Linked DNA regions of Homo sapiens. The protein of the gene in region 2 interacts with the protein of the main gene of each other region in a pairwise test. Each region holds a gene or a part of one and is shown on either strand. Other genes may lie near its edges.

Region 1 (3,671 bases), about 81 Mb from region 2:
GCTCAAGGATTTTCTAGGTGTCTGGCTGGTTAACTTGTTAACTTCATTTGAATGAAGATGTTTATGACTGTTTAGAGCAGATGATACTTGTATTTTAATAGCAATAGCAGATGGAATGTATTGGGGGTGCTATCTACCTTATTTCATTCATATACCTCAATACTTATTCATTCACATATATATGAATATCTTATTCGTATATATATGAAAACTTACTACATGCATTTATATTTAGTTATATATATCTCAGCATATCATATATACATATATATATCTAGTTATAGATATCTCTAGATATATCTGTCTCAGCTGCCCTAAAGGAGAAAACTAGGCCATCATAGATTCTTAACTATATAATACATTCAATGCTCTCACAATGGGATAACAGGAATGATGGTATTTACTAATGTGAACTAAAAAGGTAGGCTATGAACTGAACCCAGGGGAGGACTGAACAAACTTCAATAAATTCAGCATGTGACAAATAAATTGACAAAGACTGTAGGGAAAAAAAGGTTTATTTTCAAGGATTTGTGCAGACAATGGTGAATAAAAAATTGTATTTCAACTATAAAAAGGAGCTGACTTCATTCCACCCTGGCCTACAGGGTTTATGGTGATGCCAGTTTGAATCTGAGGCAATACTGCTATCCCCATTCCTCCACCTGTAAAAGATTCCCCCAGAGGAATAACATTCTATAACTTTTAGTCAAAAATATGTAAGACACATCAAACAAAGTAATGAGTTAAACAAGTTTCTGCTTATCTGCTTAGGGAAAGTCAAGAAATGAAACAAATGTATATTTGTTTCTGGCTGTAAATTACCTTTACCTTGTGCACTTTTTGGTACATTCTGGTATGAAAACCTCTCAAAATGTAACAACACAAGAGTTTGGGTCAAGACGACCCACCCAGGAGGCTGTAAAAACTGGTTTGAACTAGAACTGTGGAATGGAACTAGTTTAAAATATGAAGCAGCTCTAAACACCAAGCTTAGAGACATTTGCCCTATTAGAAAACAAAAATCATTAAAGCTACAAAATAACAAGTGCAAACATGCTGAACCTGTTTCCAGGGAGTGACATTCCCTTCTGCCAACAGGTCCCAAACTCACACCCACAAGGTGTAACTCTCTTTCCTGTTCCACTAGATTTCCTTTCTCTCATCTCAAAGGTCCTCAGAAATGACAATGGAAAACGTATGAATTGTTGAAATTTACCCTGTGGACCAATTCCTGAAGAGATAACAGCCACAACTCTGAGATGATTAGACATGCAGTGTTTACTTGATGACTTTCTGTATTTCTAGAAACCCTCAAAGCATTAAACTGCCTATTTCAAAATCTAAACTTCCTAGCAGCTTTTATTATTTGGAGTAAGCAGACAGAAGACAATTTACTGCCACACAGGAATCAACCACAGCTAACTTGTCCACCATTAAGTTTTACGGTAATGGACAATTCAACTGGAAGACCCATGTCTATGCTTGCTTATAATAATTTAATTTTAGACCTACTCTTTTTTTTTAAATAGAGAAGTTCTAGACATCCAACAGCTGATCCTTCCATAGATATAAGCAGGGAATGGAGAAGTCTTCCTGCCAAATGCTGAGCCATCTAAAATGGTCTGCTCAGGAGTTACTAACTCCATGGCAAAGTACTTCAGTATCAATTGCAAAGTTCTGTTTTCTTCTACTTCAGGAAACAACCTCATTTGATTTGTGGACCCTATGAACTGTCCAAACACACTGATGAATATCAGCAACTTCTCTCATTTGAATTTCTCATGTCCTTAAAGTAAATAGAATTTCCAGAGACAACTAAAGAGCAATGCAATATGAAGAAAATTAAAATTTGGCTAAGAAAAATAAGTAATCAACTAAAAATTGCCATAACACTCAGACTTAAACAGAAAATAAGTTTGTTGTCTTTTATAAGATGACAAAACTTCAATCTAACATCACAAGTTCTTATACTAGATGAATTTACTAGTATATGAATCAATATACTAGATTTCTTTCTTCTACCCCAACTGCAAATATACTAAACAATTATTTCTTCAATAGTTTCTTTTTCCCCTAGTCGTGGCATTTAAAACTGAGTAACAGTATTTAGCACTAAGTAAATTTAGAAAATATAAAAAGGTTTTACGAAATAGCAATAGTTGATTCATTTTTCATATACCATCTGATCAAGTGAAGTCTCCATTTGAGGATACTGGTGAACAGAAAGATTTTTTCTTGTCTAAGCCACTGCTTTCTGGTCTCATCACACAGATAATTCTCAAATTTTATGTAGGCCCAGATTTTCTTGGCAAAACTCTCAAGATACCAGCACATAACACAGCTACTTCATCTGTTCTCTTTTTGCAATGAGCACTATGCCTCTCTTTTATGTTCCCGGATGGGTACATGAAAGATAAATTTCTAAAGCCAAAGAATTTCTTGGCATTTCATAACTGTTTCCCACCCAGCATCCCCTCCCCAATTTGCCAGATCCAAATCAAAGAGTGAAAAGAAGTCTTGAAAATTCTCTCTCTTCAAAAGAAGTCTGAACACAGCCTAGTTCCTTCCCTAATGAGCCTCAGTTTGAAAAGATCCTGATGAGGAGCTGAAGAACAAAACAGGATGACAGGTTTTTATGAAGGAGGTATGTAATCTTATCACCGAGGGGTGTAATTTATCCGGACATTATATGCACTCTGCCAAGGACTGATTTACACATAGATCAAAGGAAGCTGGCTTTCTGTAGTCCCCTGAAGCATAAATAATGTTCGTGACCATGAGTTTTCCCCACATATAGCAGGGGCAGATGCTGTGGTGTCATCCTGGGGACCGATGATTTCAGCTGAACTCTCCTACACTGGGTTCAGGTCTCCAACAGGTTCTTCATCCCCGTCCCCTTGGTTGGCAGTTGATGACTTGGGTGCTTTGGAATTCATTTTATAAACAGGACGTAAAAGGCCATTACAACACAAGCAATTGCCACAGCAGCATGCAGCCTGGTTCCAATCACAGCGGCTAGCAGGCAAAAGAGAGAAGAAATCACACCCTGCCCTTCACCGAAGTCCTCACTTTCAAGGTGATATTTTGAAGTCTCTAGTCACAGACAGACATATCAACGCTCTCAAGGGCCTGGGATGTTTTTATTTTATTTTTGGAGGCAGTCTCACTCTGTCGGCCAGGCTGGAGTGCAGTGGCGCGATCTCGGCTCACTGCAACCTCTGCCACCCGGGTTCAAGCAATTCTCCTGCCTCAGCCTCTTGAGTAGCTGAGATTACAGGCGCCTGCCACCATGCCCAGCTAATTTTTGTATTTTTAGTAGAGATGGGGTTTCACCATCTTGGCCAGGCTGGTCTTGAACTCTTGACCTCAGGTGATCCACCCACCTTGGCCTCCTAAAGTGCTGGAATTACAGGCGTGAGCCACCGTGCCCGGCTCCCTGGCTAATTTTTGTATTTTTAGTAGAGACAGGGTTTCACCATGTTGGCCAGGCTGGTCTCGAACTCCTGACCTTGGGTGATCTGCCCTCCTCGGCCTCCCAAAGTGTTGGGATTACAGGCATGAGCCACCGCATCCGGCCTCTGAGATGTTTCTAAATGCTATCCTTATGCTTTAGGGTCTAGGTGAATATACTGTTTGTTTATATTTTGTCCTTTTTCAAAAAAAAATTT
Region 2 (3,500 bases):
ACCACCACACCCGGCTAATTTTTTGTGTTTTTAGTAGACACGGGGTTTTACCATGTTGGTCAGGCTGGTCTTGAACTCCAGACCTCAGGTGAGCCACTCGCCTCAGCCTCCCAAAGTGCTGGGATTACAGGCATGAGCCACCGCGCCCGGCTAGTAATTTTTCTTTGAAGGAAGGATTATTATTATTATTTGAGACAGAGTCTTGCTCTGTTGCCCAGGCTGGATTGCAGTGGCACGATCATGGCTCACTGCAGCCTTGATCTCCTGGGCTCAAGTGATCTTCTGCCTCAGGCTCCTGAGTAGCTGGGACCACAGGTACATGTTACAGCACCCGGTTAATTTTTTATTTTTTGTAGAGGTAAGGTCTTGCTACACTGCCCAGGCTGTCTTGAATTCCTGGGCTCAAGCAATCATCCTGCCTCAGCCTCCAACTTGCCGGGATTACAGGCATGAGCCATTGCACTTAGCCATATTTCTAATGTTAGACAATTAATTCAATTAGTAGTAGCAGTAGGTGAAAAAGAGTAAAGATATGACATTTTTGAAGGCAATAAAATAATCATAACTTAAGGATAAACTATCCCATCTAAAAACAGACAAGACCAGCCTGGCCAAAATGGCAAAACCTCGTCTCTACTAAAAATACAAAAATTAGCCAGGAGTGGTGGCGGGCACCTATAATCTTTGCTACTCAGGAGGCTGAGGCAGGAGAATCGCTTGAACCCAGGAAGTGGAGGTTGCAGTGAGCCAAGAACGCGCCACTGCACTCCTGCCTGGGTGACAGAGTAAGACTCTGACTCAAAAAATAAATAATAAATAGATAAAAACAGACATTGATGGCCTTTAGGGCAGTGGGTCTCAACCCTGGCTGCATATTATAATCACCTGGGGGAACTTTTTAAAAAAATACCCATGCCCAGGGCCTCACGCCCAGAAATTATGATTTATTAGTTTGAACCATATAAAATAATGGATATTTGCCCATTTTTAACATATAATAAACAGGAATTTCACATTATCCCATCAGGTAATTAGTGGTGGATGAGAGCTGGGGCATTAAAAAAAAATCTTCTCCAGGTGATCCTCATGTGCACTCACAGTTCAGAACCACTGCTACAGATGGAGGCCAAGGAAGAGCTCAAAATTTCCCTCTCTCCTTTTCTCCTCCCCTGATCCCAGCAATGGCAGCCTTCTACCTTCGGAGAAAACTAAACTGGAGAAAACTCAGGTTTAAGGATATTTTAGCTGGGCACAGTGGTTCATGCCAGTAATCCCAGCACTTTGGGAGGCTGAAGCAGGCAGATCACTTGAGGTCAGAAGTTCAAGACCAGCCTGGCCAAAATGGCAAAACCCTGTCTCTACTAAAAATACAAAAATTAGCCGAGTGTGGTGGTGCGTACTGGTAGTCTCGGCTATTCAGGAGGCTGAGGCAGGAGAATCACTTGAACCCAGGAGAGGGAGGCTGCAGTAAGCTGAGATAGTGTCATTGCACTCCTGCCTGGGCGACAGAGCAAGACTTAGTCTCGGAAAAAAAAAAAAAAGGATATTTTATTAGTCACTGTGCAAAATTAAAGTTGAAAGCTCAGTTAGGTAAGAAAGGCCTACAGACTTCTCCCTCAACCTCCACCTCAAAAACTGTTCCTATTTCTCTGACTCACTGAAGGGATAAGATGTACAACTTGGGATTAGACTTTAGGATATACAAAAATGGAGCAAGACTTTTGGCCTGCCTTTATTCTGGGCTCTTCAGACTAAGCAAAGGGGCTCTCCATGGAGTCCTGCCTAACCCGGAGGTTGGCATTGAGATTTGAGGTCAAAGTTCTAATGAGCAATAAAATATCTGTCTGCCTTGTTCTGTTCTCCATGTACATTTCTCCAGGAGAAATAAGATGTGGTGATCCGTATAAGATGTGGTGATTGAGGAAAGGATTTGAGTACTCCTGGGCACCAAGGCCAATGCCATTATAACAGTAGTTCATGCCAGGAGCGGTGACTCACGCCTGTAATCCCAGCACTTTGGGAGGCCGATGAGGGTGGATCACCTGAGGTCGTGAGTTCAAGACCAGCCTGACCAACATGGAGAAACCCCGTCTCTACTAAAAATACAAAATTAGCTGGGCGTGGTGGCACATGCCTGTAATCCCAGCTACTCGAGAGTCTGAGGCAGGAGAATCGCTCGAACCCAGGAGGCAGAGGTTGCAGTGAGCCAAGATCACACCACTGCACTCCAGCCTGGGCAACAAGAGCGAAATTCCATCCAAGATAAAAAAAAAAACAAAAAAAACCGGTAGTTCAAACCCACCATGATTACACTGAGACAGAAAAAATACAAATCACACAATGACACATTTTATGCCTTTTCATAATCACTAAGAGAATTAAAGTGAACTAAGGAGTTCAGATACCTGCAGACACACTGAGTCAAACAAAAAACATGACGTGGCTCTCACCTCCAGCTGCCGAATTGCCGTTTCTCTTTCTTTAATAAGTTCCAAATCCTGCTCAGTGATGGCCACCTCATCCTCCTGGCTCTGCATCTGGTTCCACTCCTCATGGCTGCAGGGAAACAGGCACACTAGGTGATTTCTCCTCTCAAAGGCATAACAAGACATATCTCCAACATCTCTACTGCCAGCAGAACCTATGCAAAGACATTACCAGGGCTCCAGTCCTCTGCTATCAATAAAGTCTTGGAGGGCCACATTCTTCATATCCAGAAGCAAAGAGCTGATGATATCAGGAAAACAAAGACTCAGCTTCCATGGGCAAAGCTGACATGTGGCAGAATTATGACGGATGGGACTCCTGGCTGTTTCCATTTAGGGGTATACTCTGTAATCTCACTGGGGCTTGCCAGACAAGGAAAGTAGCCAGAGATTTGAACTCATTGAATTATGTTGCACCATCATCTTCCAGGGCACTCTCAAAGTGCAAGCTGCATTAGTACCTTCAGTACTAAGTGGGTGGAGAAGAGCAAGCTAAGTGACCTATCAGTGCTTTGCCAGTTAGTTCAACAGAATCACATCTCCTAGTTTTCCAAAATTTCCTTGGGGTTATGCTTTGGGTTAAATACCTCTTAACAGGCCAGGCGCGGTGGCTCATGCCTGTAATCCTAGCACTTTGGGAGGCCGAGGCAGGAGGACTGCTTGAGGCCAGGAGTTCAAGACCAACCTGGCTAACATAGCAAAACCCTCATCTCTATTAAAAAACAATCCATAAAAAACCCTCTTAACAGAAAGCTAGTGAAATGTTATAACACTTTTTAAAAAATTCTTTTTAGAAATGGGGGTCTTGCTTTGTTGCCCAGGCTGGTCTCAAACTCCTGGCTTTAAGCTATCCTCCTGCCTCAACCTGCCAAAGTGCTGTGATTACAGGCTTGAGCCACCATGCCTGGCTTTTTTTTTTTTTTTTGAGACGGAGTTTCGCTCTTTCATCCAGGCCGGAGTGAAGTGGCGCTTACTTCACTCCGCCCCCCGGGTTCAAGAGATTCTCCTGCCTCA
Region 3 (2,584 bases), about 140 Mb from region 2:
TAACAAAACAGTTCTATAATTACATTTCCAGTTCACTCTGTCTTACTGTGTTATGTATAATGCTCTTATTATTTTGTTCCAGAATGTCATCATACACTAATTTGGTATTACCCACCTGACCATAGGCTGGTAGTGCAGTTTGTGAAACTAATCAATATTTTAAACATTAAATCACTCTGTGGGAGAATATATATTCGTATTTCTGGCCAGAAGGACTTTAAATAAATAAACAAAATACAAAATCTTCAGTGATTTATCCAGGGTGATAGATCAATGGAAACCAAGGGACCTGTTCGCAAATGTTAATTTCAATTCAGTATTCATGAATCCAGACTGTAAATCTCTACTGATTGACTTTGACTGGCTGAAGGAGACCACAGACTTGCAGAAAAGGGAGGTTTGAGGCAGGGTCAGGGCAGGGTATTCATACACCTATAGAGAATGTCAGAACTCTTGTCTTGTTGCAAGAACATTACATGAACAGGGTATGTTATAAAGTATGGAGATAAGGGAACTAGGTATCCAGTAGAGTTCCTTTAGAACAATTCTTTTAACATAGAGGGTTATTGAAAGATAATGGGTGCTCTCATTTTTACATTTACTATATTTACAGTTAAAAAAGGAAATAGGATAAATTAACATTATGTAAATGAGTTTTCAAGTATAAATACCAGGTCCCTAAATTTTCCATAATCTTAATTTTAGATTCATGCTTACTAATATATTAACAGTACTTTTTGATTCTGGTGTTCTAAATGAGAAGTTCTGTTTCTTGAGCACCTACCAGGCACAAAACTGGAAGTTTGCCCCATTTATACTGTTTAATCTTCAAAACTCCTATGAGGTATTATTATCATCATTGTTTTACAGGTAGACCAAGACTCAGCTTAAGTAACTGCTCAGAGTCACTGTGCCGGAATTTTCAGTTATTGCATGCCTCTTCCCCAACCCCTTCCAGAGGAACCTGGCTGTGTTTTGGACTCAGGATGCTGACCTGGGGCATACCTAATTAGAATAGTGATGGGCTACCGACTCCAGTACATTTAATCCATAGGCTAAATAGTGGTTCACGGCATGGCCTGACACTAAGAGTTCTGTTTAAACTGAGATGAGCCGGGCAAACCTATGTTCTCCTCTGAGAGTGTGGAATTGGATCACTGAGAGATTGGGTGGAGTGAATTTGATACAGAGTGCAGGTGGTGGCCATATTGGCCTGTGAGTATGATAGGAAAGCTGAAATGAGAGAAAATGTGTCGCTTCTAAGCATTGAAAAGAATAGCCTTTGATTCTGATGACATGACTATGAAATTGCCTCGTGTATCCTACAATAAAACCCAATTTTTACCTGAGCTAGTTTGACTGGATATCTGTTCTTTGTATCCACAAGAAGCCTTGACCGAAATGGGTACACATGGTAAATGTCAGGAAGGTTTTGAACCCTGAGTTTTCTAAAATGAAAGCCATTTATTATTTTCACTGTATTTTCTTCCAAGACAGAGAATCCTAAATTAGGAGATATACCTGTTTCTTTTTTGCTATAACTCTTGTACTAGAAGCTACTTATTACACTAAGTTGATGTAGGCACTCATAACAGGTAAAGCAGCATGGCCTTCACAACTGCTAATGGTAATGAAATTAAAGAACTAGTTGGAAATCAATCTTTTTTCTTGCAAGAGAGGAAGGACCCTCTTGTTGCAAAAAGAAAAGCAACAAATTTTATAGAAAAGGCAAAAGACAATAAATTAAGACACGATAACTCTTCTTTTTGTACTGACCTAATGCAGAAGAAAAAAAGTGAGATTGCAAGGTGACTTCTCTAGTAGAATTGCCCTATTTCACATAAGACTTCACATAAGATTACCTGTCAACAGAGTTTATACATGTGTAACTATGTAAAATTTCCTAGTAAGAGTGTAAGAGGAGTAGTGGAGAGAATGAGAACAACTTAACCCAAGGATTCTCAACTGGGAGCATTTGTGTCCAATAAGGGACATTTGGCAATGCCTGGGGACATTTTTGGTTGTCATAAATTTTGGGAATTACTGGCAACTAATGGGTAGAAGCCAGTGATGCTGTTTAGCATCTTGCAGTGCAGGACAGCTTCTCACAACAAATAATTATATGGCCCAAATTGTCAGTAGCACCAAGGTTGAGAAATCCTGCATATAGCTATCCTGAGGTTTTCTACTTGATGTTTACTTCTTGCCCTCACCCAGTATCATTTTGCTGGGTGTGCTCTGTTCCATTTATATTCATCTCCCGACCACTGTCCGTATCTTTCTCCATCAGAATTTTTCTTTTTTTCTAATTTATTAATCAAGAGAACAATTTTCCACTTTCTCCATCTCTTGTCTGTCTTCTCATAAATTTAACCAGCTGTGTGCTGAAGCTAGCTTACCCTGGTTCATGTGGATTTTGTGTATCTCTTCCCAGTTCTGCATTCAGTAATATCACGTTGGTGGCTTGAAATTGGACAGGGTGGTAGTAATTATCCCATGGAAATGTAAACGCTACAAATCAGGGCTCCCCATCCTCCCACCCCAGAACTAGCATACCACTGAATTAACCTTTTAGCCTGCCTTC
Region 4 (3,121 bases), on a different chromosome or scaffold from region 2:
CAGTGGCACAATCTCCACTCACTGCAACCTCCGCCTCCCGGGTTCAAGTGATTCTGTGCCCGGCCCAAGAAGATTGTTCTTTATTGACTTAGGATGCAGTTGGGACTGGGTCAACCTAGGCTGCTACCCGTGGAGGGGTGGCAGGACAGAGTCAGGATCCTATCGGGGGAGGGCAAGGCAGAGCTGTAGAGAAGGTAGGAAGGAGAAAGAAATCAAGGAGAAGAGGTATCCTGGAGCCCTTCGAAGCAGCTTGGCCATGCATGCCAAGGCCACTCAGCAGCTGCACACTGGTGGTGGTGTGTAGGTGACTCCCAGAGTGTTTGTTAGGTCCATGGCCTGCAGTGTTTTTCAGTGTGAATGAGGTGTGTGGCAAGGCACTTTCAAGGTACCCAGTCCCCGCAGAGGTACTTGACCTCCCAGGTCTCCCAGCCTCCCTTACAGTTAAGGGTGGTCACACCAAACAGTCTGGCTAGTGAAACAAACACAAGTCTGCTGGTGGCTCTGGGCAGGCAACTGCTTCTCTTTTATTATGAATATGATTTGAATCTACCCACTGCACACTGAGGCTACTGCCTCTCTTTATAAAAAGGAAGGAAGAAATTTCCGTTTCCCGCAGATGTGATGTAGGAAGCTACAACTGCCAACTCCTGAGCATGAGGGAGGGGACAGGAGAATCACTGAGGCCCTGACCCCAAGGCAACCGAGACTTAGCTGTGTGCCCACAGCTGCCCTCGCCAGGCTTGTTTTGTGAGGGAATAATCCTTAGTGCTTAATCCATTACTGGGGGAGTTTTGCTATTGTTAAGAAATGTCAGCATTAAAAAACTAGGAGACTTCACATAAAAATACAGGGATGTGGATCCCCTGTACTCTATCTAGGGTAAGCCTGCGCAACAGTGGACTAACAATGGGGATCCCAGTGGAGAGAGGGCCAGGGGATTTATTGAGCTAGACACTGCTCTGAGGGGCAAGTAGAGCCTCTCACACTGGAGGGGGCTGGAGGTAGCAGAGCTGGAGGTGGGGCCAGGTGGGAGGTGGGGACGGGCCAAGCAGCAGGACAGAGAGCAGCAGCAGCAGCAGCAGGCCCAGGACAGGAGCTGGGATCAGTGGATGTCGAGTGACTCTGGTGGGGAGGTGGGAGAGCATTTAGGGCAGGGTCTGGGCAGCCCCTGCTCTTCCCAATGTCAGACCACCTCCTTCCTTCTGGAGACGCCTGGGGGCACACCTGAGCCGCTGTGGGGGCAGGCAGAGCTGGCCCCAGGCCCTCCTCCTGACTGGGACCAGCTTTTTCATCACAGGCACCAGGGCTTGCTGGAGTTCCCGCCGCGCAGGTCTGCTGGGGTGAAGGAGGGAATCACCACTGGGTTTTTCCTTGCCCCAGTGTCCCTCCTGGACCCTGTGGGTCCTATTACCTCTCTGGAGGGTTTTCTGGGATGTCTCCAGGGCGAGGGGCTCCTAGAGGGACAGGGAGATCAGCCTGCAAGGACAGAAGAGATGCGTTGGAGGCACCGGGTTCTGGACTGAGAGGTGCTCAGGTCAGCCCACTGGACACAAGTGGCCACATAGAAAGTGGTGGAGCTCAGGAGATAAGTGAGTGCACTTCTGCTGCCAGGTCGGGTTCCCATTTCTGCCAGCTTCTGGCTGAGGGTCCTTGGCATGTCACCACACCTCTCCGTGCCGCTCTTTCCCCATCTGCTGGCCAGGGATGTCCCCACCTCATAGGGTTAACATGGAGACTAAATGAGTGAATGTAGGAAAAAAAAGGCGGGGGCAATAGCTTGGACAGCGCCTGGTACATAGTGAGTGCTCAATGTCTGTGTGAGCTATTCAATATCATCACCTCCGTTTTCCATTGGATTCTGGAAGTATCTAAGCTCTCTGAGGGCAGAGACCACATCTTCTACAGGTGCCCACCCCTGTGCTGGGCCTCATGAAGAATCCTGTCTTCCTGCCTATGCCAGAATCGGCAGGCGCTTTACTAATTAAAAACATGCCATTACAGGCCAGGTGCAGTGGCTCATGCCTGTAATCCCGGCACTTTGGGAGGCTGAAGCGGGCGGATCACAAGGTCAGGACATGGAGACCAACCTGGCCAACATGGCGAAACTCCGTCTCTACTAAAAATACAAAAATTAGCCGGGCATGGTAGCACGTGCCTGTAATCCCAGCTACTTGGGAGGCTGAGGCAGGAGAATGGTGTGAACCTGGGAGGTGGAGCTTGCAGTGAGCCGAGATCGCACCACTGCACTCCAGCCTGGCGACAGAGCAAGACTCCATCTCAAAACAAAAACCAAAAACAAAACACCATGCCATTATAAATGGTATAATTACAAATTTATTTTTCTAATTGCTCATGGTTGCTATACTGAAATATGATTTTTTATTTTGATCTTTCACCCAGCAACCACACTAAATTCACTGATTAATTCCAACACTTCATCTGAGGATTCAAAGATCAAAGCCCCAGCTGTTCCTCCAGGGCCAGGCCCCACCCACTGCACCGCCTCATCCCCCATGTCTCCCCGGAAGGGCCTCCCCTCTATGGGTCTTTGGCTTTCCTACCCCCATACCTTTTTAACACAGATGAGGATGATGAATGACAATGATAATGGCAGTAAATAAAAACAGAACACCAATCACAATCAATATCTTCACCTCTACCACCTGCTGTGCCAGGCAGGGACCCAGGCCCTTTATGACATAGTCCTTAACCCTCCTCCCCACCCTGGGAGCAAGGAAGAGATTATGCCCATGTGAGCTGTGAGGAAGCTGAGGTGGAGCCCCAGTCTCTGCAAGGGAGTGTAGTATGTTGAAGGAGGTGGGCTTCGGGGCCAGGGTGCTGGGAGCTGAGTGTCCTGGAGGCAGCCATCTTGGCCGGTTTGGACCCTGAAGAGCCCCAGGGGCCCTGACAGTGCCTGACCCACAACAGGCAGACTCCAGCCCAGCTCCTGCATTCCTCAGCTCACAACTGAGGGCTCCTCACCTCTCCTTACCAAGTTTCTTTCCCCGTCCTTGCCTGAGAATGGAAATCTTAACCCCCACCGGGCACTGGGCTCTGAGGAGCAGAGGAACTGGCCTGTGTGGCTGCAGGCAGGGGGGCTGCGGGCACTACGCCCCCAGGG
Region 5 (3,500 bases), on a different chromosome or scaffold from region 2:
CAGCACAGCAGGCAGCATGCCAACAGCACCCGCCCCTGGGAAGCCCCAGGTGCTCCCCAGAGCCACACCGGGCGTTGATAACATTCTCTGCATCCGGGAATCAGGCCCTGGCCTCCCTCTCCCCTCCTCCCCTCCTCTCTCCATTCCCCCCGGATCCTCAGGATCTGTTCCCATGGCTTCAATATTCCCTTGCATACAGATCACCCAAAGCTGTCCTCGGGATGCCCTGCCCGAGCCCCTCAAACCGTCAGCTCCTGCCATCTGGACCTCCTGGCAGTGCCCAGGGCAGGTCAGGATGTTTCATGCCCTTCGTCCCCCACTGAGAATGCCCATCGCACTTGTCCACTTACTCATCTCTTAATTCCTAGCTCAAGACTCTGCCCTGTGAGATCTTTCCTAAGTTCGCTCCCGCTCCACAGGCAGAAGTGGCCACTTCTAACAATCAATGCCCACATGACGTCTCAGTGCCATTATCTGTCTCCTCCACTGGAGAATGCATACGCTCCTTAAAGGCAAGGGTTATGTTCAGGAAAAGACTTCAAACCAGACCCAGAAAACTGAGTACTAGGGAAAAAATACATTTCGCTATGTTAAAATGAAGAATGGCTGATCAACAGAAGACACCTTAAAGAAAGAGGAATAATAGGTTAAAAGCTGGGAGAAGATATTTGCAATAGACACGAAGGATTAAAATCAGCAATATATAAAGAGCCCTATAGATCAACAAAAAATAAAGCACCAAGAACCCTAATGAAAAACTGGCAAAAGACATGAATATTTCACAGGAAACACATATGCCAATAAACATAAGAGGAGATATTCAGCAGCAGGGCTCAGGGACCTAGAAACCAAGTTCCCAAAGATTCCATTTTCTACCCATTCACTTGGCCAACAGCAAATGTTGGTAAGACTGTGGAGCTGCAAGACACAGGACACTGCTGGTAAAGTGGATACTGGTATAAGCACTACATTCAGGAAATGGTCTAGCAATAGCTACGAAAGATGAACACTGCCGAGCATGGTGGCTCATGTCTATCATCCCAGCACTTTGGGAGGCCAAGGCGGGTGAATTGCTTGAGCCCAGGAGTTCAAGACCAGCCTGGGCAACACAGTGAAGCTGCCTCTGCACAAACTTTAAAAATTAGCTAAGCATGGTAGCCTGTGCCTGTAGTCCCAGCTATTCAGGAGGCTGAAGGGGATGGATCCATTGAACCCAGGAATTTGGGGCGGCAGTGATCCGTGATTATGCCACTGCACTCCAGCTGCCTGGGTTACAAGGTGAGACACTGTCTCTAAAAAAAGAAAGAAATAGGCCAGGCGCGGTGCCTCACACCTGTAATCCCAGCACTTTGGGAGGCCGAGGCAGGTGGATCACCTGAGGTCAGGAGTTTGAGACCAGTCTGACTAACATGGAGAAACTCCGTCTCTACTAAAAATACAAAATTAGCCGGGCATGGTGGCGCATGCCTGTAATCCTAGCTACTCCGGAGTCTGAGGCAGGAGAATCGGGAGTAGCTTGAACCCGGGAGGTGGAGGTTGCAGTGAGCCGAGATCGTGCCATTGCACTCCAGCCTAGGCAATAAGAGTGAAACTCTGCCTCAAAGAAAAAAAAAAAAGAGACAGAGAAACAAAGAAATACACATGTAAGATAAAACTAAGAAAAAAATGAAAGAAAGGAGATAATGATTACCTCAGGGTAAGAACAGAAAACAAGTTCAAATGAAATGATTAGATGTTCTAAGGGGACCTGATAAAGTAGAAAACTTTTTAAAGTTTTTTAAAATTAAAAAAAAAAGATTAGATATATACTTTTGTTTCATGATCCCAGCTTTTGTTTTGGGTGCCTAGATTGCCAGAGCTTACTACATTTATTAAAAATAACTTACTAAATAAGGAAAAGTAGGTCAGGCATGAACACTGAGGAGTGTGTACTAATCAATCTTGTTCTCAGCTTAGCTGATAAGGCAAACACCAAAGAGACTGCTGAATTCATCTTTGTACTCCAAGTGCCAAACACAAGCCTCGGCGCACAGAATTTCGGGAGGCATTTGGGGAATGAATCAGGGCTCTTCTCTCTAGCCCATGGCCTCATTTCCTGTTGGCCTCTTAATACCTTCAACACGTCTGAGGCCAAACGCATCTTCCTTCCTCATTCTCCTTTTCCCCCTGGATTTCCCCCAGGCGGCCAAGAGAAAAACCTCAGATTCTCAGTCCTCCGCAGCCCGCTCCCCCAGGCCTAGCAGCTGCCTGCCCTGCTCTCTCCTCACCTCTGAAGCCCCCTGCTAACACCTGGCCGGGACCCTTATGCCTCTCACTTTACCCCCTCCCTGCCGGGCGCAGTGGCTCACGCCTGTAATCCCAGCACTTTGGGAGGCCTCGGTGGGTGCATCACCTGAGGTCAGGAGTTCGACACCAGCCTGGCCAACAGAGGGAAACCCCGTCTCTACTAAAAATACAAAAATTAGCCAGGCATGGTGGCAGGTGCTTGTAGTCCTAGCTACTTGGGAAGCTGAGGCAGGAGAATCACTTGAACCCGGGAGGTGGAGGTTGCAGTGAGCCAGGATGGCGCCACTGCACTCCAGCCTGGGTAACAGAGCGAGACTCCATCTCAAAAAAACAAAACAAAACAAAAAAACAAATAAGTGCTCCCTCCCAAACAGCTTCTCCAACTCTGCTTTCTAACCCTCTTGTACATCTCAGATGGGGGGGCAGAAAAGATTAAGCTTCCTGAACTAACGTTCTGATCTTGTCTTTTACACACCTCCCCTGGATCTCTAGAATGAAATTCAAATTCCTTAGGCTGACAGTCAAAGCCGATCACAATACCGCCCTTCCCTCGCTATCAACAATATTTGCCGGTGCCCTTCCCTTCCATCCCCTCATCTATACCTCCCTCTCCACAATTCCCTTCCAGAGTGTAAATGAGGATCCACTACTCCCATGTGCATCAGCGTGTCTGTCCCCACCCCCATGACTCTGCTTCACCCTGAATCCCACCCACTTGGTCCCCTGTCCTCACCTTACCCACCCTTTTATGGCCCAATTTAAACAGCACTTCCCACGATGCCTGGATGTGCCCAGCAGAAAGCAAACACCCTCTAAATCAGCCAGGCATGATGGTGTGCACCTGTAAGTCCAGCTACTCGGGAAGCTGAGGCACAAGAACCTCTTGAGCCTGGGAGGTGAAGTTGAGCAGTGAGCTGAGATTGCACCACCGCTCTCCAGCCTGGGTGACAGAGTAAGACCCTGTCTCAAAAAGTAAACAAACAAAACAAAACAACAACAACAAAAAGAATGAAAGAAAACACCCTCTTAGCAAGTTCCTTTTCAGTTCTCTATGTTCACTTTATCTCTTCAACTAGACTATAAGCAACTGAGGGCAAAACCACTCACCTGCCTCTCCCCACGAAGAAGCTGGCATGATGTATGTAAGAAGACCGCCACAAAGCGAATAATCCAGTCTAAACCCATTCCACATGTTCCAGTGTGCTCCATTAAAA
Region 6 (3,500 bases), on a different chromosome or scaffold from region 2:
ATTGAGACTATCCTGGCCAACATAGTGAAACGCCATCTCTACTATAAAAATGCAAAAATTAGCTGGGCATGGTGGCATGTACCTGTAACCCCAGCTACTCAGGAGGCTGAGGCAGGAGAATCGCTTAAACCCAGGAGGCAGAGGTTGCGGTGAGCTGAGATAGCACCACTGCACTCCAGCCTGGTGACAGAGCAAGACTCCATCTCAAAAAAAAAAGATTGTGGTCCAGTAACTTGGTTTCCCAAACTGAAAGCATCACCTTGACTATCTATAATAGACAACTTCAGGACCTAGTAACATTCCATATTTATTATGCAAGGTGACAAAACATGCTATGAATTACATCTTAAAATAAGACTAAGACCTCCAGAGCAATCTGAAAGCCACTGAGAAATAGTCTGAAATGGGCTGGGTGAGGTGGCTCACGCCTATAATCCTAGCACTTTGTGGGGCTGAGGTGGGCAAATCACCTGAGGTCAGGAGTTTGAGACCACCCTGGCCAACATGGTGAAACCACATCTCTATTAAAAATACAAAAATTAGCCAGGCATAGTGGCGCCCACCCGTAGTCCCAACTATTCGGGAGGCTGAGGCAGAAGAATCACTTGAACCCGGGAGGTGGAGGCTGCAGTGAGCCGAGATCACGCCATTGTGCTCCAGCCTGGGTGACAGAGAGAGACTCTGTCTCAAAAAAAAAATCTGAACCCAGGAGACCTCAATGAGCATACGGTATAAAAGCGATACAATTTGTGGCGGGGCGCAGTGGCTCATGTCTGTAATCCCAGCACTTTGTAATCCAAGCACTTTGGGAGCTCCTCAGCACTTTATGAACTCCTGACATTTGAGGTCAGGAGTTCAAGACCAGCCTGGTCAACATGGGGAACCCTACTAAAAATATAAAAATTAGCTGAATGTGGTGGCGCATGCCTGTAATCCCAGCTACTCAGGAGGCTGAGGCAGAAGAATCGTTTGAACCCGGGAGGTGGAGGTTGCAGTGAGCCGAGATCACGCCACTGCACTCCAGCCTGGGCGACAGAGCGAGACTCCATCTCAAAAAAACAGTGATAGAATTTGCACCACCTTGTGGTAACAGGAACACATGACATTTTACTAGACATTTTATATAAAATGACTAGAATAAAAATATAAAAATTCCTATAGAAAGTAAAAAAAAAAAAATAGACTCGGGAAGGAACAAAAGTGGAAGTACAATACAATGACTTTTCATTAACAAAGAAGCTCCCAGGTCAACACCTCTGTATCCTCTTGCTGCAACTGCATCCCACAATGTACCTGTCAATATTAAGTTACATTGCCTTTCAGTCACCTGCAGGTGATGTACAGCCACTGAATAGGGTGTTCCAGGTTCTTAGTACAAAGAGCAATGATGATAATGGCAAGGGCAATATGTGGTATCTGGATGCCAGAATACATGAAACACAGGCCCATCAGCTGCAAGGTCCAGGTCAGCAGGTTGATACTTCGTTCATTCTCCAAGGGCCCATACTTGTAACATACTGCAAAACTCATGAATCCAACTGTGAGGACATAACCTATGAGAAGAGTTATCAGAAGACATTCTTTTTCATCTATACTTGGTAAAAATAATTTGTGTGGGAAGCAGTAGTTAATTTACTATATAGCACCAATTGAACTAGGAAATCAGATTTTTACTTAATTTTTCACACTTTTTTCTTAGAATATATTTCTCTAAGTTTCTATCCTTTCTGCTGTCCCAAATTTATTTGGTTCAAACAGAACATTAAAGGTACATGTTGAACAACCCTGAAATAGACTATTTTAAAAAACCAATATACAGAAATCCAGATTAATCACCCTTCAAAGGATAACTCAAAGGTTACTATCTATATGACCAAGGATTTTTACTTTGTAAATAAAATCTACAGCAGTTCATTCAGAAATGAAGGAGAAAAAAATTAACTGCGGAGTCTTTTACTTAAGGTCCCCAAGTATATTTAAAATATGATTCCATTAATAAAGTCAACTTACAGCTTTTCAGAAAGATGTTTATTGTGTAAAGAAAGGTATATTTATAAATACCAATAAATGAACATCTTCGCCTTAACAGCACCATTCTAATTTAAGAGAAGGTGATAATTGTAGAGGGATTAGAAATAAGTGAAAAACTATGATTTTTAAAAGTTTAAAAAAATGACATGAACTATTAAATCCCATAAGCAGGCAAAATCTTTTCATGATCAAATTAACTGAAACAGCCTATAAACGTACAAAAGGAAAGCAAAACCGACAACACTTACTTAAAAGATACTGCCAGTAACACCTCCAGATCTCTTGTAAATTTTTAAAAACTAGTTGAATGAGGTACAGAGAAAAAGACCAGCCTCCCACCAGGATGACGTAAATGGGACTTTTCTAAGACAGAGAGTAGAAGTGAAAGCAAAAAGTTACAACAGGCTTTCCATACATAAAAGAAGCAAAATGGAACTATGATTTTTTTTTTAAAAAATTCAACCTACTCAAAATGCACAAAAAACACTTCTCTTAAAAAGATGTCCTTTATACTTAAAATGGTACAGTCTGCAACGAACACTGGGAAGATGAAATGCTAAATAACTTAAAAGCCTGGCTATATAATTAAAAAACAGGAAGCAGACTTTAATCCCCCTCTGAGCACAGGATTTTATATAAAAAGAAAGAATTTGTAATCAGGCTCCAAGTTTCATCGTGGAAAGTACCTTTCTGAATCAAGGAGAGTAGGATATTGACTCATCAGCCATCAATACACATTTTCAGTTTTCTAAGATTACCCAGGAAAACAGTCCTTCAGCTATCCAAATTCATTCTAGCTGCACATGAAGATTCTGATACTTACCTTAGGCATAAACTTAGATAGTATAAAAATGATGATTAGCAGAGAGGCCACAATTCCCACAGTCATCCCAGTAGAGTAGTAGAAAATTTGACTTCTGCAGGAAAAAAATGTATTTCATGACCATATGTATATATTTCATACATAGCACTGTTGAAACTAGGACAACTAACCCAGCCGAAAGATTTTAAAAGGTACAAGATTAGAGCAGTACAAGCATCAGAGACATTTCAAATTTGGTTCCAGACCACTGCAATAAACCAAATATTGCAATTGCAGTAAGTAAGTCACACAAATTTTTTGGTTTCCCACTGCATATAAAAATTGTTTACACTATATTATAGTATATTAAGTGTACAACAGCATTATGTCTTAAAAATATATATTCCTTAATTAAAAATACTTTGCTAAAACCTGCTAAAGATCATCTACGCCTTCAGTGAGTCATCATTTTTTTTGCTGGTGGAGGGTCTCACTTCCATGTTGATGGCTGTTGACTGATGAAGGCAGTGGTTTCTGAAGGCTGGAGTGGCTGTGGCAATTTCTTAAAATATAATGAAGTTTGCTGCATTGACTCATCCTTTCAATGAAGATTTCTCTAAAGCATGCAATACTGTCTGATAGCATTTTACCACAACTTCTTTCAAAA
Region 7 (3,500 bases), on a different chromosome or scaffold from region 2:
GCATACTTTACAGGAACATTAGGCCAGATTGTCTAACCAGAGTATCTCTACCTGCTTAAAATCTAAGTAGTTTTCTTGTCCTTTGCAGTATCTTATCAAACATCCATGAAGTACATCAGAACATGGGCTACTGCCCTCAGTTTGATGCCATCACAGAGCTGTTGACTGGGAGAGAACACGTGGAGTTCTTTGCCCTTTTGAGAGGAGTCCCAGAGAAAGAAGTTGGCAAGGTACTGTGGGCACCTGAAAGCCAGCCTGTCTCCTTTGGCATCCTGACAATATATACCTTATGGCTTTTCCACACGCATTGACTTCAGGCTGTTTTTCCTCATGAATGCAGCAGCACAAAATGCTGGTTCTTTGTATCTGCTTTCAGGGTGGAAACCTGTAACGGTGGTGGGGCAGGGCTGGGTGGGCAGAGAGGGAGTGCTGCTCCCACCACACGAGTCCCTTCTCCCTGCTTTGGCTCCTCACCAGTTGTCAGGTTATGATTATAGAATCTAGTCCTACTCAGTGAAAGAACTTTCATACATGTATGTGTAGGACAGCATGATAAAATTCCCAAGCCAGACCAAAGTCAAGGTGCTTTTTATCACTGTAGGTTGGTGAGTGGGCGATTCGGAAACTGGGCCTCGTGAAGTATGGAGAAAAATATGCTGGTAACTATAGTGGAGGCAACAAACGCAAGCTCTCTACAGCCATGGCTTTGATCGGCGGGCCTCCTGTGGTGTTTCTGGTGAGTATAACTGTGGATGGAAAACTGTTGTTCTGGCCTGAGTGGAAAACATGACTGTTCAAAAGTCCTATATGTCCAGGGCTGTTGTATGATTGGCTTGTCTTCCCCCAGGGACAGCAGAGCAACCTTGGAAAAGCAGAGGGAAGCTTCTCCCTTGGCACACACTGGGGTGGCTGTACCATGCCTGCAGATGCTCCCAAATAGAGGCACTCCAAGCACTTTGTTTCTTAGCGTGATTGAGGCTGGATATGTGATTTGATCTTTCTCTGGAACATTCTTTCTAATCATCTTTGTGTTCATTCCCTGAAAATGAAGAGTGTGGACACAGCTTTAAAATCCCCAAGGTAGCAACTAGGTCATAGTTCCTTACACACGGATAGATGAAAAACAGATCAGACTGGGAAGTGGCCCTTGACCTTTTTTCTTCTGTAGATAAGAGCATTGATGTTATTACGGGAAGAAGCCTTTGAGGCTTTTATGTATTCCACCTCGGTCTGGAATTTGTTTCTGTAAGGCTAACAGTTGCAATATACTAGGGTAATCTGAGTGAGCTGGAATTAAAAAAAAAAAGGAATTTCACCCCAATCTTATACTGACTTCAATAGAGGTTTCAGACAAAAAGTTGTTTTGTATATACTTATCAGTCATGAAAAGATAATTACAACTAAATGGCCTTTTTCCTTCCCTATTTATTTGGAGAAATTTAATTACATAAAAAAGTACTCAGAATATTTGAGTTTCCTGCATCAATAAGACATTTATAATAATGACCTTGTTTACAAATGAATTTGAAAGTTACTCTAATTCTTTGATTCATCAAGAAATAACTAGAATGGCAAGTTAAAATTTAAGCTGTTTCAAAGATGCTTCTGCATTTAAAAACAAATTTATCTTTGATTTTTTTTCCCCCCAGCAAATAAGACTTATTTTATTCTAATTACAGGATGAACCCACCACAGGCATGGATCCCAAAGCCCGGCGGTTCTTGTGGAATTGTGCCCTAAGTGTTGTCAAGGAGGGGAGATCAGTAGTGCTTACATCTCATAGGTCCGTAGTAAAGTCTTGGGTTCCTCACTGTGGGATGTTTTAACTTTCCAAGTAGAATATGCGATCATTTTGTAAAAATTAGAAAATACAGAAAAGCAAAGAGTAAAACAATTATTACCTGAAATTATATATGCATATTCTTACAAAAATGCAAGCCCAGTATAAATACTGCTCTTTTTCACTTAATATATTGTAAACATTATTCCAAGTCAGTGCATTTAGGTGTCATTTCTTATAGCTGGATAGTATTCCATTAGGATATACTCTTATTTAACTATTCCCCCTTTTGTAGACATTTGGATTATTTCCAACTTGTTCACAATTGTAAACACCACTACACTGAACAGCATCATCCCTATATCCACATGTACTTGTAACAGAATACAATTCCCTAGGAAGCTGGAATGCTGGAAGTCATGGTGATGTTCTCATGGTTACAGAGAATCTCTCTAAAACTAAAACCTCTTTCTGTTTTACCGCAGTATGGAAGAATGTGAAGCTCTTTGCACTAGGATGGCAATCATGGTCAATGGAAGGTTCAGGTGCCTTGGCAGTGTCCAGCATCTAAAAAATAGGTAATAAAGATAATTTCTTTGGGATAGTGCCTAGTGAGAAGGCTTGATATTTATTCTTTTGTGAGTATATAAATGGTGCCTCTAACATAAAGGGAAATAAAACTGAGCAAAACAGTATAGTGGAAAGAATGAGGGCTTTGAAGTCCGAACTGCATTCAAATTCTGTCTTTACCATTTACTGGTTCTGTGACTCTTGGGCAAGTGACTTAACTACTGTAAGAGTTAGTTTCCCTGGAAGATCTACCTCCTAGCTTTGTGCTATAGATGAAATGAAAAAAATTTACATGTGCCAGTACTGGTGAGAGCGCAAGCTTTGGAGTCAAACACAAATGGGTTTGCATCCTGGCCCTACCAATTATGAGCTCTGAGCCATGGGCAAGTGACTAACTCCCTGGGCCTCAGTTTCTCTGTAACATCTGTCAGACTTCATGGGTCCAGGTGAGGATTAAAGGAGATCATGTATTTACAGCACATGGCATGGTGCTTCACATAAAATAAGTATTTAGTAAATGATAACTGGTTCCTTCTCTCAGAAACTTATTTCTGGGCCTGCCAGGGGCCGCCCTTTTTCATGGCACAAGTTGGGTTCCCAGGGTTCAGTATTCTTTTAAATAGTTTTCTGGAGATCCTCCATTTGGGTATTTTTTCCTGCTTTCAGGTTTGGAGATGGTTATACAATAGTTGTACGAATAGCAGGGTCCAACCCGGACCTGAAGCCTGTCCAGGATTTCTTTGGACTTGCATTTCCTGGAAGTGTTCTAAAAGAGAAACACCGGAACATGCTACAATACCAGCTTCCATCTTCATTATCTTCTCTGGCCAGGATATTCAGCATCCTCTCCCAGAGCAAAAAGCGACTCCACATAGAAGACTACTCTGTTTCTCAGACAACACTTGACCAAGTAAGCTTTGAGTGTCAAAACAGATTTACTTCTCAGGGTGTGGATTCCTGCCCCGACACTCCCGCCCATAGGTCCAAGAGCAGTTTGTATCTTGAATTGGTGCTTGAATTCCTGATCTACTATTCCTAGCTATGCTTTTTACTAAACCTCTCTGAACCTGAAAAGGGAGATGATGCCTATGTACTCTATAGGATTATTGTGAGAATTTACTGTAATAATAACCATAAAAACTACCATTTA

What was found.
Region 1: the proteins of STX12 (region 2) and TMEM167B interact in binary tests that used the Homo sapiens proteins (3 or more experiments, as listed by UniProt).
Region 3: the proteins of STX12 (region 2) and GORAB interact in binary tests that used the Homo sapiens proteins (3 or more experiments, as listed by UniProt).
Region 4: the proteins of STX12 (region 2) and KASH5 interact in binary tests that used the Homo sapiens proteins (3 or more experiments, as listed by UniProt).
Region 5: the proteins of STX12 (region 2) and DTX2 interact in binary tests that used the Homo sapiens proteins (3 or more experiments, as listed by UniProt).
Region 6: the proteins of STX12 (region 2) and NEMP1 interact in binary tests that used the Homo sapiens proteins (3 or more experiments, as listed by UniProt).
Region 7: the proteins of STX12 (region 2) and ABCA1 interact in binary tests that used the Homo sapiens proteins (3 or more experiments, as listed by UniProt).

The regions. Positions count from the first base shown.
Region 1 is NC_000001.11:109,093,764-109,097,434, reverse strand, and holds the end of TMEM167B (protein kish-B isoform 1 precursor), read right to left. Parts: intron 3,019-3,671; coding exon 2,936-3,018; coding exon of another isoform or gene 2,856-2,935; 3' UTR 501-2,855; downstream 1-500. UniProt on the Homo sapiens protein: Involved in the early part of the secretory pathway.
Region 2 is NC_000001.11:27,811,219-27,814,718, reverse strand, and holds part of STX12 (syntaxin-12), read right to left. Parts: intron 2,557-3,500; coding exon 2,451-2,556; intron 1-2,450. UniProt on the Homo sapiens protein: SNARE promoting fusion of transport vesicles with target membranes. Together with SNARE STX6, promotes movement of vesicles from endosomes to the cell membrane, and may therefore function in the endocytic recycling pathway.
Region 3 is NC_000001.11:170,549,166-170,551,749, forward strand, and holds part of GORAB (RAB6-interacting golgin), read left to right. Parts: intron 1-2,584.
Region 4 is NC_000019.10:49,415,370-49,418,490, reverse strand, and holds the end of KASH5 (protein KASH5), read right to left. Parts: intron 2,818-3,121; exon of another isoform or gene 2,333-2,817; intron 1,477-2,332; coding exon 1,412-1,476; intron 1,336-1,411; coding exon of another isoform or gene 1,333-1,335; coding exon 1,225-1,332; intron 1,123-1,224; coding exon 981-1,122; coding exon of another isoform or gene 940-980; 3' UTR 501-939; downstream 1-500. UniProt on the Homo sapiens protein: As a component of the LINC (LInker of Nucleoskeleton and Cytoskeleton) complex, involved in the connection between the nuclear lamina and the cytoskeleton.
Region 5 is NC_000007.14:76,464,709-76,468,208, reverse strand, and holds part of DTX2 (probable E3 ubiquitin-protein ligase DTX2), read right to left. Parts: intron 1-3,500. UniProt on the Homo sapiens protein: Regulator of Notch signaling, a signaling pathway involved in cell-cell communications that regulates a broad spectrum of cell-fate determinations.
Region 6 is NC_000012.12:57,061,792-57,065,291, forward strand, and holds part of NEMP1 (nuclear envelope integral membrane protein 1 isoform a precursor), read right to left. Parts: intron 2,949-3,500; coding exon 2,855-2,948; intron 2,395-2,854; coding exon 2,280-2,394; intron 1,554-2,279; coding exon 1,328-1,553; intron 1-1,327. UniProt on the Homo sapiens protein: Together with EMD, contributes to nuclear envelope stiffness in germ cells. Required for female fertility. Essential for normal erythropoiesis. Required for efficient nuclear envelope opening and enucleation during the late stages of erythroblast maturation.
Region 7 is NC_000009.12:104,785,156-104,788,655, reverse strand, and holds part of ABCA1 (phospholipid-transporting ATPase ABCA1), read left to right. Parts: exon of another isoform or gene 1-88; coding exon 89-230; exon of another isoform or gene 231-601; coding exon 602-736; exon of another isoform or gene 737-1,039; intron 1,040-1,679; coding exon 1,680-1,783; intron 1,784-2,265; coding exon 2,266-2,358; intron 2,359-3,016; coding exon 3,017-3,260; intron 3,261-3,500. UniProt on the Homo sapiens protein: Catalyzes the translocation of specific phospholipids from the cytoplasmic to the extracellular/lumenal leaflet of membrane coupled to the hydrolysis of ATP.